2 linked regions of the Homo sapiens genome follow. The protein of the gene in region 2 purifies or fractionates together with the protein of the main gene of each other region. This does not show direct contact. Each region holds a gene or a part of one and is shown on either strand. Other genes may lie near its edges.

What was found.
Region 1: the proteins of PTPN12 (region 2) and PSTPIP2 purify together in Homo sapiens (affinity purification with mass spectrometry; 5 studies listed by BioGRID and IntAct, with this or other methods). This does not show direct contact.

What each region holds. Positions count from the first base shown.
Region 1 is NC_000018.10:46,062,119-46,069,386, forward strand, and holds part of PSTPIP2 (proline-serine-threonine phosphatase-interacting protein 2), read right to left. Parts: intron 1-7,268. UniProt on the Homo sapiens protein: Binds to F-actin. May be involved in regulation of the actin cytoskeleton.
Region 2 is NC_000007.14:77,532,857-77,540,407, reverse strand, and holds the start of PTPN12 (tyrosine-protein phosphatase non-receptor type 12), read right to left. Parts: upstream 3,114-7,551; 5' UTR 2,862-3,113; coding exon 2,763-2,861; intron 2,366-2,762; exon of another isoform or gene 2,302-2,365; intron 1-2,301. UniProt on the Homo sapiens protein: Dephosphorylates a range of proteins, and thereby regulates cellular signaling cascades. Dephosphorylates cellular tyrosine kinases, such as ERBB2 and PTK2B/PYK2, and thereby regulates signaling via ERBB2 and PTK2B/PYK2.

The sequences.
Region 1 (7,268 bases), on a different chromosome or scaffold from region 2:
CTTTAGAAGGCATGTGCTTCAGATAGGGATGGGGTCTCAGTCTCCCTACCCTGAACAGCTTATTCAAGTCTTCCTTCCAGCCTTCCAGCCTTGTGCCACACCATCCCCTCCCTGAGAGGTATTCTGAAAACAAAGATTTCCCCATCTTGTTGCATGCCTGGTGCCATTTTAGCACTCTTCAAGGAGTGGTACCCTATCGCACTCACCCAGCCAGACTTGTCCAAGAATCTTGCCCTGGTATGCTAGGCATGGTGGCTCATGCCTGTAATCCCAGCACTTTAGGAGGCCGAGGTGGGTGGATCATGTGAGGTCAGGAGTTCAAGACCAGCCTGGCCAACATGGTGAAACCCCATCTCTACTAAAAAGAAAAAGAAAAAGAAAAAGAAAAAGAAACTTGCCCCAGTAAACCACTTTTTTTTTTTTGGAGACGGAGTCTCGCTCTGTCACCCAGGCTGGAGTGCAGTGGTGCAGTCTCGGCTCACTGCAACCTCTGCCTCCCAGGTTCAAGCAATTCTCCTCCTGAGTAGCTGGGACTACAGGCACATGCCACCACACCTGGCTAATTTTTTTCTACTTTTAGTAGAGACGGGGTTTCACCGTGTTAGCCAGGAAGGTCTCAATCTCCTGACCTCGTGATCCACCTGCCTTGGCCTCCCAAAGTGCTGGGATTACAGGCAGGAGCCACCATCCCGGCAGGTAAACCACTCTTTTTAGCCTGAAGGAGAGTAGGTCAGTCTGTTTCCCATTAGTGTCCTACATCTTTGTTTGCTTCCTTAAGAAGAATGTAGGACCCTGAGGGCAGGAATCCACCTCCTCCTCATTTTGCAGGTCCACACAGGTCTCTGACTTCTGCAAATGTCAGAACACTTAAGCCCTCATACTCAAAAGACAGTATTTTTAGTGAGACAGCGTCTTGCTCTGTCATCCAGGTTGCAGTGCAGTGGTGTAATCACGGCTCGCTGCAGCTTCAACCGCATGGACTCAAGTGATCCTTCTGCCTCAGCCTCCTGATTATCTGGGACTGCAGGTACTGGCCACCATGCCTTGCTAATTTTAAAATTTTTTTTGTAGAGACAGGGTCTCAATATGTTGCCCAGGCTGGTCTTGAACCCCTGGACTCAAGCAATTGTCCCACCTCGGCCTCCCAAAGTACTAGGATTATAGGCATGAGCCACAGCGCCCAATCATAAGACACATATTGAGTAAAACTTGGACCACAGAAAACCTCGAAGTGTAATAGAAGAAATCACAAAACTTTAGATCAATAAACTTGACTGTATAAAGTGTTTTCAAAATCCATATACATATATCATTTTACAGATGAGGAGGCAAAGCTGAGGAAAGCTGAATAATTTGAACACGGGCACACACATTCTTTGGCTTGAAAGGAGCCAAACTGGGAATCAAACCCGGGAATGTCCAGTGCAAAAGCTTGAGGGCCTGAGGACTGCCTCTCACTGTGTCATGCCTATACTGGATGTTAGAACATGTGAATTACACACACACACACACACACACACACGTGTATATATACAAAAATATATATTTTAAAATATGCATATAAATTTACAAGCAAAGCATGAGGAAGAAAACAAAACCATTTGTAAAAGAGGAATTACAAGAAAATAACCAAATGTGCACTCTCCCTGGTGATAAAAACGCAAATGAAAGTTGAATAAGGCACCAAGTTTTGCTTATTGAATGAGCAGAAAAAAAGACAATAGCTATGACTGACAGAGTGAAACTAGCATCCGCACATACTATTGGGAACACTGAGAATAGGCCCACTCTTTAGGAAATCATCCTGGTTCTACATATCAAAAGTTTTTCAATGTCCTTCTGTTAGTTAATGGTTTTTTCAGTCATTCAGTAGGTATTACTGAGAATCTGTCATGTGCCAGGCATTGAACCAGGCACCACTGGAGTAAGCAGACAGGAGTGTGGGTCCTCACCCCAAGGGCAGCCATGCCAGCCCTGGAATGACCAATCAGGGGCTTGTAGATGAGAGAGAAATAAACCTCTTCCTTGTCTAGGCCACTGTTGTTTTGGGGTTTTCTATTACTTGCAGCCAAACTGAATCCTATTTATACAGAAGGTAAGTGAGCTTTCACCAGCTGCTCTGGTTTCTTTTTTCTTTTCTTTTTTTCTTCTTTCTTTTTCTTTCTTTTTTTTTTTTTTTTTTTTTTTTTTGAGACAGAGTCTCATTCTGTTGCCCAGGCTGGAGTGCAGCGGAGTGACCTTGGCTCACTGCAACCGCCCCCTCCCAAGTCCAGGCGATTCTCCTGCCACAGCCTCCCGAGTAGCTGGGACTACAGGCACCCACCACAACACCTGGCTAATTTTTTTTTTTTTTTTTTTTTAAGTAAAGACGGGGTTTCACCATGTTGACCAGCCTGGTCTCCAACTCCTGACCTCAGGTGATTCACCCGCCTGGGCCTCCCAAAGTGCTGGGATTACAGGCATGAGCCACCACGCCCAGCCCTGCTGTCTGGTTTCTTAATGGAGTAGAGGCAAGATCACCAAAACACAGTGAGAATGTGGGAGGGATGTGTAGGTTTGAGTGGAAAAGGCATGAAATTATCACTGCAGAAAGGGCAAGAGTGACTTATTAGAGAAACATAGTAAAATGGCTGGGCAATGATGAGTTCTGTCTTGAGTTTCCAGAAATAGATACTTAAAGAATCCCAATTTTAAATACCTTACACGAATGACATGCACCACATTCTTTATTATAGAAAACACTGGGCCGGGTGCGGTGGCTTATGCCTGTAATCCCAGCACTTTGGGAGGCTGAGACAGGCAGATCACCTGAGGTCAGGGGTTCAAGACCAGCCTGACCAACATGGAAAAACCTCATCTCTACTAAAAATACAAAATTAGCCAGGCATGGTGGTGCATGCCTGTAATTCCAGCTACTTGGGAGGCTGAGGCAGGAGAATTGCTTGAACCCAGGAGGCGGAGGTTACAGTGAGCCGAGGTCGTGCCATTGCACTTCAGCATGGGCAACAAGAACGAAACTCTGTCTCAAAAAAAAAAAAAAAAAAAAGAAAAGAAAAGAAAAGAAAACTCTAGAAATTACATAAATGCCAAACAGTGACAGAATAGTTGTATCACTCACAAAACTTTTCTAAATAATTGTTAGGGAAAGTAGATAGCAATATATAAAATAAGTTATAATTTTTTTTTTTTTTGAGATGTAGTCTGGCTCTGTCGCCCAGGCTGGAGTGCAGTGGCATGCTCTCAGCTCACTGCAAACTCCGCCTCCTGGGTTCAAACGATTCTCCTGTCTCAGCCTCCCAAGTAGCTGAGTACAAGTGCCCACCACCATGCCTGGCTAATTTTTGTTTTCGGTTGTTTGTTTGTTTTGAGACGGAGTCTCACTCTGTTGCCCAGGCTGGAGTATGGTGGTGTGATCTTGGCTCACTGCAACCTCCGCCTCCCGGGTTCAAGTGATTCTCCTGCCTCAGCCTCCCGAGTCGCTGGGACTACAGGCACCCACCACCACGCCCGGCTAATTTTTGTATTTTTAGTAGAGACAGGGTTTCACCATATCGGCCAGGCTGGTCTCGAACTCCGGACCTTGTGATGCACCTGTCTCAGCCTCTGAAAGTGCTGGGATTACAGGCGTAAGCCACCGCGCCCGGCCAATTTTTGTATTTCTTTAGTAGAGACGAGATTTCACCATGTTGGCCAGGCTGGTCTCAAACTCCTGATCTCAAGTGATCCACCCGCCTTGGCCTCCCAAAGTGCTGGGATTACAGGCATGAGCCACTGTGCCCAGCCAAAGTTACGATATTTTAATTAAAGCAGTAGAATACAAGATAGTACAGATACTATAGGATTATAATTATGCATGGAGGAAAAAAGTTGGGAAAGTACCAAATCACTAATAATATATATTTTAATAACCTTAATTTTATGTTAATATTAAAAACTATTGGCCAGGTGCAGTAGCTCATGCCTGTAATCCCAGCATTTTGGGAGGCCAAGGCAGGCAGATTGCTTGAGCTCAGGAGTTTGAGACCAGCCTAGGCAATATGGTGAAACAGCGTTTCTACAAAAAATACAAAAATTAACCAGGCGTGGTGGCATGTGCCTGCGGTTCCAGCTACTTGGGAGGATTGCTTGAGCCCAGGAGTTTGAGGCTGCAGTGAGCCGTGATCGCACCACTGCACTCTAGCCTGAGTGACAGAGCAAGACCCTGTCTCAAAAATAAATAATTTAATTAAATTAAAACTACTGTTTTAAAATTTCATGTTGAGACTCATCTTCTTGAGTAGCTAATAATCTCTTAGAGGTGAGATGTTGTGTGTCTGTCTCTCTGTGAGCCCACAGCAGCTACCACAAGGCTGGCCACTCAGACTTCACATAGACATTTGCTGAGTTGAACTGCCTGAGATTACGTGGGGAATGGAGAAGAAGTTCCTCTCTTCAACAAGTTGCTGTGTTTTCTCCGTTGGTCACAAGGTCTCTCACCAGAAGGTGAGCCCCACGTGTGTGGGCTTTGTGCTGCACCCCTTCTTGAGTATAGGGCTTCTAAAGAAGCCAGAGCCCGTCCTTAATGATATTCTCCTCATGCAAGACCACCAGCCAGTCACAGCAGAACAGTTTCTTTAAAAGGGTGGAACAGGCCGGGTGCGGTGGCTCACGCCTGTAATCCCAGCACTTTGCCCAGGCGGGCGAATCACCTGAGGTCAGGAGTTCCAGACCAGCCTGCCCAACCTGGTGAAACCCCCGTCTCTACTAAAAATACAAAAAATTAGCCGGGCGTGGTGGCGCATGCCTGTAATCCCAGCTACTCGGGAGGCTGAGGCAGAAGAATCGCTTGAACCCGGGAGGCAGAGGTTGCAGTGAGCCGAGATCTCGCAACTGCACTCCAGCCTGGGCAACAAAAGTGAAACTCCATCTCAAAAAAAAAAAAAAAAAGAGGTTTTTGACGATTATTTTAAAGCTAGCTCCCTCCGGCTGCTCTACAAAGAATGTATGGGAGAGCAGGTAATTGTTCATGACTCTATCTTCCCTTTTGCCACTAGGCAAGACAAAAGGAAACAGCCCTCCTGGTGTGTTTCTGGGGACCAGATTGTCAAATTAAATTCGACCTAGGCTGGGCGCAGTGGCTCACTCCTGTAATCCCAGCACTTTGGGAGGCCGAGGCGGGCGGATCACGAGATCAGGAGATCGAGACCATCCTGGCTAACACGGTGAAACCCCGTCTCTACTAAAAATACAAAAAAATTAGCCGGGCGTGGTGGCGGGCCCCTGTAGTCCCAGCTACTCAGGAGGCTGAGGCAGGAGAATGGTGTGAACCCAGGAGGCAGAGCTTGCAGTGACCCGAGATCGCACCACTGGACTCCAGCCTGGGCAACAGGGCGAGACTCTGTCTCAAAAAAAAAAAAAAAAAATGTTGGCCTAAAGCTGCCTCCATAAATAGCAAGCCACAACCTAACTTAGTGTGTAAACAAACCGTAACCTAACTAAGAGTATATTCTTGTAACAAGTAGCTGGGTCTCTGCCAATCATAACAGGGGAGCTTTCAGCCAATCCCAGGCTGCAGACTGCCCAGTCAAGTCCAAATAAGGCAACCACCCAGGTGTAACCAATCAGGCTATTTCTGTATCACCTCTTTTTTCTGTAAGTATTGCCTGCCCACTTTTGCCTTGTGGAGCTCTCTGAACCTTTACTGGTTCAGGGTGCTGCCTGATTCATGAATAGTTTCTTTGCTCAGATAAACTCTGCTAAATTTAACTAGTCTGAAGTTTTTCTTTTCATAAAATCCGAGAGAGTATTTAAAAATTACAGCAACAATCTAAACATTGTACAAAATACACTATGGGGTCAGCAGGGAGACTCTGTGGTGTTAACCTGTATTCTTTCTGTATTTTTTTTTTAAAGCAGCCTCCTATATTTATCTAGAGCACTGTACAGTCAGTTCTCCATATCTGCATCCATGGATTCAACCAACCACAGATGAAAAATATTCCAAAAATTAAAAAATAAAAATATACCAATTAAAAAATACAAATAAAAAATACAGTGTAAACAACTATTTACATAGCATTAACATTATATTAGGTATTATAAGCAATCTGGAGAATACTTAAAGTATACAGGAAGATGTGTGTAGGTTATATGTAAATACTACACCATTTTATAGAAAGAATCTGAGGACAGGCATAGTGGCTTACACCTCTTTTTTTGAGACAGATTCTCGCTCTGTCGCCCAGGCTGGAGTGCAATGGCACGATCTCAGCTCACTGCAAGCTCCACCTCCCAAGTTCACAGCATTCTCCTGCCTCAGCCTCCTGAGTAGCTGGGACTACAGGCGCCCACCACCATGCCCGGGTAATTTTTTTGTATTTTTAGTAGAGACGGGGTTTCACTGTGTTAGCCGAGATGGTCTCGATCTCCTGACCTCGTGATCCACCCGTCTCAGCCTCCCAAAGTGCTGGGATTACAGGTGTGAGCCACCATGCCCGGCCGGCTTACACCTCTTATCCCAGCACTTTGGGAGGCCAAGGCAAGAGGATAGCTTGAGGCAAGGAGTTTGAAACCAGCCTGGCCAACATAGCAAGACCCAATCTCTGTATTGAAAAAGAAAAAAGAAAAGAAAGGACTTGAATGTCCATGAATTTTGGTACCTGCATGGGAGTCCTAGAACCAATCCCCTACAGATACCAAGAGATGACTGTATAGAGAAAAACCATTGAGCAAAGCCAGAGGCAACATCAGTTCAAACTCTGCTAAGGCTCCAGAATGACAAGATTCCAATCTGGTAAAAGGTTTGGATGAGAGTGACAGCCTTGTGTTGACAGCAGGGCAATGAGCCAGTTCAGACAGCCCCAAGACTTTCCCTAGTCAATCCCAGGCAGAGAGAAGCCCTGCCCACTACAGGAACAGGGTTGCTGAAACAGCAACTAGGAAGCTGGTCTACACCAAGAACCTTGGGAATCAGGAAGGCCCAGGAAAAATAAGTATCTACAGGAGGTTCAGGGACGATTTGGACCTCACACCCAAGTGAGAAGCCTGGAAATCCCCAGGGGTGAGAGAACACTGCTTTCATCTACCCTTCCAAAACGGGTCCCACTGTCACCCGTGCATGCCCGTATCTGAAGGACACTGGTGTCTGATCATCCCAAAAACTGGAATTTTTTCTCATTGTGGCCTGGCTGTTTCCCTGGATCTTTGGAAACTGTGGTCACTGTCTTATTCTGACAAGATACAATCAAAGTTAACCAAGAGAAATTATACAGCACTGCTTAACCAAAGTG
Region 2 (7,551 bases):
AAATTAGCCAGGCGTGGTGGCATGCGCCTGTAATCTCAGCTACTCAGGAGGCTGAGGCAGGAGAATCGCTTGAACCTGGGAGGTGGAGGATGCAGTGAGCCGAGATTGAGCCACTGCACTCCAACCTGGGCGACACAGCGAGGTGTTACATCTCAAAAAAAAAAGAAAGAAAGAAAGAAAGAAAGAAATGAACTCTCCAATAGGAATCCCTGACTCATCCCCAAAGCATGAACCCTAAGGCCACTTCTCCAGTACAGGAGTTCAGAGGCTGGGCAACCTGTCCTGATGGCCCGCATCACCAAACAATGCTCCTTCCTGACGGTATATGCCTAGGGATAACAAGGTGACTAGCATGCAAACAAGAAATGACCAGGGACCACACCATCTCTTCTTCCATAACCAAAGTAAGACGGTAAAAAACTAGTTTTAGGCCGGGCATGGTGGCTCACGCCTGTAATCCCAGCACTTTGGGAGGCCAAAGCAGATGGATCACTTGAGATGAGGAGTTCGAGAGCAGCCTGCAAATATGGCGAAACCCCATCTCTACTAAAAATACAAAATTAGCAGGGCGTGGTAGCTTGCGCCTGTAGTCCCGGCTACTTCGGACAAAAATTAGCCGGGCGTGGTGGCACGTGCCTATAATCTCAGCTACTCAGGAGGCTGAGGCAGGAGCATCGCTTGAATCTGGGAGGCAGAGGTTGCAGTGAGCTGAGATTGCGCCGCTGCACTCCAGCCGGGGCGACAGAGCGTAGAGCGAGACTCCGTCTCAAAAAAAAAACCAACCAACCAACCAACCAAACAACAAAACCCAAAAAAACTAGTTTTAAACATCTTAAATATTCAAAGTATTTTCTTCTACTTTTGCTAGAAAGTAGTAAAAAAGGGACTCCATCCAATTGCTGTAAATGACACCATTCAAAAGATACCAAGACAATAAAAACTCTCAATAGTAAAAAGGGAAAATGCCGTTTTCCTTAACCCTTTCAGATCAAAAAGTAATTTTTCAAAAATACATAGGCTAAATATCAAGAGCAAATGTTTAAATATAAGCAATATTTTTATTTTTAATAAGGAATAAGTTAGATTATTTAACTTATATTTTCAATCTTCAAAAGATACTGAGAAAACTTTACTTCCGTCCTCTATTATTGGTCTGGGGAGGCGGGAATCACAAAGCTCAACGATGCTAGTATAATACTGTGTATGGTCAAGGGCCTATTTTATAAGCTGTTAAAAATTTAACGCTAAAGCTTTACTAGACCAGTCTCTTTAAAACGTGAAAAAGTATTCACTACTAAGTCATATCACCTCCACCATAAAAACTACTGTACTTTTTAAACAAAAAATAAAAACTAGCCAATGTTTGCTGCCCATTCATTTTACAGGCATTAACTGTGTATCCTTCTCATAATCAGATTTCAGAATTAAGTGATTATTCTTCGAGGTGTACCTTACCCAAGATAAAAATTTTCCCCAGCTTATTTCCCATTCCCAACCCCCGCCAAGACTAAGGAGCAACCACTTCCCAAAGTCCCACTTCCTTTTTCATTCCCCAGACCTACAGGGTTTCCAACGCCCCAGTCTTGCGCAATATCCGTAGGAGCAGCAGCCGCAACCACCGCCTCCTAAGCCGGGAAACAACCCTAGAGGGAACATTGTCCAGCAGAAAAATAAAAAGGGCGGGGGTTGGGGGGGTGGGTAACGTAGGAAGTCGACTTCTGGTCTCACGCCTTCGGATCTGACCCCCTCACAGTGTGCTAAAGCAATAGTGTATCTAGAGCAATTTCATGAACAAGACTTTTAACCTTCACCTCCTCTCAAGACTGCCTGCACAAGCAGAGGGCGGAAAGTAGGGGGTGGCGGAGGCGGGGGGGCGCTGGGAAGGTTATCTCCCAGTTCAGGGCTTCGGCCCGTAGCGTCGCCTCCGCCCCACCAGGACTATTGTTCCCAAGTTCCCCACCCCCACCCCGGATAGGAAGTGATAGTCACATCCCCTCCGCCTTCGGCAATATCCCCTGGGGAGTCCGAAGTCGGCTGGCTTCCTTCAGGATAATTCCCCCACCCACACTTATCCCCTGAACCTATAGTCACACGGACCCCAAGACCACCTCAAACCTGGGCCTCAGGAGAGGAGAAGCGGGACGCGGGTAAATGGAAATTAGGTAAACCCATGAGATTCCTTATGGGCAATCCTTTCCCAAGCGTTGGAGATCATGACTGCGACCCCAGAAACGGCCTAAGTCCTACCCTGCCCGCTTTGAGACCAGCTAGAGCAAAGGGATCCCAGGAGTTAGTGCCAACCTCAATACCCCCGTTCCTCTGTCAGCCACGATCTGCACTCCTCCCGGTCACAGCCAGATACCTTGCCTCGACCCTCCTGGGAGGAGCGAACTGCGCGGGGAGGTGTGGAAACGCGAGCCCCCCCCCCCGGCCTGCACCTCACTTGCCTACGGCTCCCGGCCCGGTAAACAATAGGTGGTCGCGAGCCACGGTGCAGGCTGCGGGCTCGGCCGCGCGGCCGCTCCCTTCGCGTCCCGGGAACCCGCGCGGGGGTCGCGAACATGGGAGAAGAAAGGAGGCCACGGGGGGAGGCGCTCTCGCCTCCCGCTGGCCTCCGAGACCACCCGGCTCACCCGGCTGGTGCGCGCCCCCTCCGCCCCTCTCCTCACAGAGGTACACAAAGCACTGGCGGCCCGGCCGGGAGAGGCGGCGATGGGCTCCGGCGCCGGCAAGAAAACGCGACAGCGAGGGGAGAGACTCACCATGAAGTCCCGGGCGAAGTTGTCCTCCCCATTGTGGTCAGGACTCTTCATGGCCTGGACCCTCTGGATGAATTTCCTCAGGATCTCCACTTGCTCCATCCTCCCGCGTCCCCCCGGCTGCGGTCGCTGGCCCCCCCGCCGCCCGCCCGCCCGGCACAGAGCCCGCTCCGTCTTCCCCAGCTCGTTCCCCCAGCACGTCCCTCCCTCCCGACCCCGCCAAGCCCCGCGGCTCCCTCCTCCTCCCCACCGCCCTAGGCGGCGGCTGCGGCGGCACCGGCTGGGCTCCCGACACCACAACTTCCAGGAGCAGCCGCCGCTCTCCCACAGTACCAGGCGAGCCGCTGCGCTAGCGCCAACCCCAACCCCCAGCTTGCTCCATCCTCCTTCCCCGCCCTCCTCCTCCGTCGGAGACGCCGCCGCCGCCGCCGCCGCCGCCGCCGCCTCAGGAACACAGCTAGCTCTCCGCTCGCCCTGCCCCCCCTTCCCGGTTCCTCCTCCCCCCCACCCCCCGCCAGCAGCCGCAGCCGCAGCCGCAGCCGCCTCTCCCCACGGGCGCGTCCCCGCCGCCACCCAGATGCGCGGCCTCGCGCTGCGGCTCCGCCCCAAGCGCTGCGCCCGCAGATGCATCCCCGCCCGCCTCCCGGCCACGCCCCCAAGCCCGCCCCGCCGGCCCCAGCCCCGCTTGGAGTGGCTGGAAGGCACTTCAGCGGGCGGCCTGGAGACCTGACTCCATTTCCGGGGCGTGGCCCCGCCCGGGGTGCTCAGAGGTCGGAGTATCGCTGGGAGGAGAGTTGGTTCATTTGGAGGAGGGAATGCGACTCTGAGCGGGCCAAGCCCTAGTGGGTCAGAGTAGGATTCTGATGGAATTTGCGGTCTCACCGCCTACTAGGGAGGAAAAGCAGTTTTCAGGAGTCCCGCACCGCCGCCAGCCGTGGGCTGGGACTACAAGTCACGGTCTGTGGAGTCCAGGAGTGGGGGCGGGCGGGAGGCAGGCTGGGAGCTGTAGTAGTGTCACCGCCACGTTCGCAGCAGGTAGATGCTCATCTTGCTAACGGATTGGTGAGAGTGGACAGCAATTAGGCTTTGGCACCTTGGAGCGTGGCTCCAGCTAAGGGAAGCGAAACGCTTCCTGGGTGAGAGGACTTTTATTCTTTGCTCATCCTCTTAAACCTGGCGAGTGAGCGCCTGAGGTTCGGAGTGCCTTCTTCACAGACGACGCGAATGTGGGGTCTTCGTGTTTGCCGAACTGAAGGGAATTTGCCTTCCTGCCTTTAGGTTCGCAGCAGTTCATAACTGAATAAGAGACTTTCCTCCATAGAATGGACTTTATAAATCTATTAATTTTTTTTTTTTTTTTTTTTTAGAGCTAAGGTCTTGCTCTATCTCCCATGCCAAAGTGCAGTGCTATGATCACGGCTCGCTGCAGCCTTGAACTCCTGGGCTCAAGGCATCCTCCTGCCTCACTACGTCACCAAGCCCAGCTAATACATTTTAAAAATTTATTATTTATTTATTTATTTATTTTTGGTAGAGAAGGGGGTCTCACCAGGTTGCCCAGGCTGATCTCGAATTCCTGTGCACTAGGGATCCTCAGCTTCCGAAAGTGTTGGGATTTTAGGCGTGAGCCACCGCGCCTAGCCTATAAATCTTTATTCATCTTTGTAAACTTCTATCAGAGAATATATTCTGGTCTAACTCATCATTTTACAAATAAAGCGACTTCCTGACATCCCCCAGCGTATTCTTAGCAGAGCCGTAACTAGAAGTTATTTTACTTTCACAACAGTGGCCTCTCACAATGTGACAGAACTGAAGGATTTGATCCATGAACTGACTTTCGTCATTTATACCCACAAACCTTTTTTTACAGAGCAGATTGGTCAGCGAATTTGGTTATAATAGGAAATATCAGTGGTAGAATACTTTCTCAGATGAAAGTTAGGAGCACTATGGAATTTAGTGAAAAACTCATTGAAGAAAATAGGTGTAGGCCGGGCGCGGTGGCTCACGCCTGTAATCCCAGCACTTTGGGAGGCCGAGATGGGAGGATCACCTGAACCCGGGAGGCGGAGGTTGCAGTGAGCTGTGATCACACCATTGCACCCCAACCTGGGCGACGGGAGTGAGGCCCTGTCTCAAAAAAAAAAAAAAGAAAAGAAAATAGGTGTAACAGGATATAGTTTATTTACTTCTTCAAAAAAAGGAAAATATTTCTGTTAAAATAATCCAACTAATACATCCACTCCAGAAATATGCACTTCAGACCAGGTGCAGTGGCTCACACCTGTAATCCTAGCACTTCGGGAGGCCGAGTTGGGTGGATCACTTGAGGTCAGGAGTTCGAGACCAACCTGGCCGATATGGTGAAACCCTGTCTCTGCTAAAAATACAAAGCCGGGTGTGGTGGTGCACGCCTGTAGTCCCAGGTACTCCAGAGGCTGAGGCAGAAGAATCGCCTGAACCTGAGAGGCGGAGATTGCAGTGAGCCGAGGTCGTGCCACCACACTCCAGCCTGGGTGAAAGAGCGAGAGTCTGTCTCAAAAAATAAAAATAAAAAGGCCAGGCGCGATGGTTCACACCTGTAATCCCAACCCTTTGGGAGGCCGAGGCGGGCGGATCACCTGAGGTCAGGAGTTCAAGACCAGCCTGGCCAATATGGTGAAACCAACCCCGTCTTTACTAAAAATACAAAAAATTAGCCGGGCGTGGTGACGCATGCCTGTAATCCCAGCTAGTCAGGAGGCTGAGGCAGGAGAATTGCTTGAACCCAGGAGGCGGAGGTTGCATTGAGCGAGATCACGCCATTGCACTCCAGCCTGGGCAACAAGAGCGAAACTCTGTCTCTAAAAAAAAAAAAGAGCCTCCCTGCCTGATTCTCCTGCCTCCGCCTGCGGAGTGCCTGCAATTGCAGGCGCGCGCCGCCACGCCTGACTGGTTTTCGTATTTTTTTGGTGGAAACGGGGTTTCGCTGTGTTGGCCGGGCTGGTCTCCAGCTCCTAACCGCGAGTGATCCGCCAGCCTCGGCCTCCCGAGGTGCCGGGATTGCAGACGGAGTCTGGTTCACTCAGTGCTCAATGGTGCCCAGGCTGGAGTGCAGTGGCGTGATCTCGGCTCGCTACAACCTCCACCTTCCAGCCGCCTGCCTTGGCCTCCCAAAGTGCCGAGATTGCAGCCTCTGCCCGGCCGCCACCCCGTCTGGGAAGTGAGGAGCGTCTCTGCCTGGCCGCCATCACATCTAGGAAGTGAGGAGCCTCTCTGCCCGGCCGCCATCCCATCTGGGAAGTGAGGAGCGCCTCTTCCGGCCGCCATCACATCTAGGAAGTGAGGAGCGTCTCTGCCCGGCCGCCCATCGTCTGGGATGTGGGGAGCGCCTCTGCCCCGCCGCCCCGTCTGGGATGTGAGGAGCGCCCCTGCCCGGCTGCCACCCCGTCTGGGAGGTGAGGAGCGTCTCTGCCCGGCTGCCCCGTCTGAGAAGTGAGGAGACCCTCCGCCCGGCAGCCACCCCGTCTGGGAAGTGAGGAGCGTCTCCGCCTGGCAGCCACCCTGTCCCGGAGGGAGGTGGGGGGGGTCAGCCCCCCGCCAGGCCAGCCGCCCCGTCCGGGAGGGAGGTGGGGGGGTCAGCCGCCGGCCAGGCCAGTCGCCCCGTCCGGAGGGAGGTGGGGGGGTCAGACCCGCCCGGCCAGTCGCCCCGTCCGGGAGGGAGGTGGGGGGGTCAGCCCCCCGCCCGCCAGCCGCCCCGTCCAGGAGGTGAGGGGCGCCTCTGCCCGGCCGCCCCTACTGGGAAGTGAGGAGTCCCTCTGCCCGGCCAGCCGCCCCGTCCGGGAGGGAGGTGGGGGGGTCAGCCCCCCGCCCGGCCAGCCGCCCAGTCCGGGAGGGAGGTGGGGGGGGTCAGCCCCCCGCCCGGCCAGCCGCCCAGTCCGGGAGGGAGGTGGGGGGGTCAGCCCCCTGCCCGGCCAGCCGCCCCGTCCGGGAGGGAGGTGGGGGGGTCAGCCCCCCGCCCGGCCAGCCGTCCCGTCCGGGAGGTGAGGGGCGCCTCTGCCCGGCCGCCCCTACTGGGAGGTGGGGAGCCCCTCTGCCTGGCCAGCCGCCCCGTCCGGGTGGGAGGTGGGGGGGTCGGCCCCCCGCCCGGCCAGCCGTCCCTTCCGGGAGGTGAGGGGCGCCTCTGCCCGGCCGCCCCTACTGGGAAGTGAGGAGCCCCTCTGCCCGGCCACCACCCCGTCTGGGAGGTGTGCCCAGCAGCTCATTGAGAACGGCCAGGATGACAATGGCGGCTTTGTGGAATAGAAAGGGGGGAAAGGTGGGGAAAAGATTGAGAAGTCGGATGGTTGCCGTGTCTGTGTAGAAGTAGACATGGGAGACTTTTCATTTTGTTCTGTACTAAGAAAAATTCTTCTGCCTTGGGATCCTGTTGATCTGTGACCTTACCCCCAACCCTGTGCTCTCTGAAACATGTGCTGTGTCCACTCAGAGTTAAATGGATGAAGGGCGGTGCAAGATGTGCTTTGTTAAACAGATGCTTGAAGGCAGCATGCTCATTAAGAGTCATCACCACTCCCTAATCTCAAGTACCCAGGGACACAAACGCTGCGGAAGGCCGCAGGGTCCTCTGCCTAGGAAAACCAAAGACCTTTGTTCACTTGTTTATCTGCTGACCTTCCCTCCACTATTGTCCTATGACCCTGCCAAATCCCCCTCTGTGAGAAACACCCAAGAATGATCAATAAAAAACAAAACAAAACAAAACAAAAACAAAAAAACAAAAAAAAGAAAAAAGAAAAAAATGCACTTC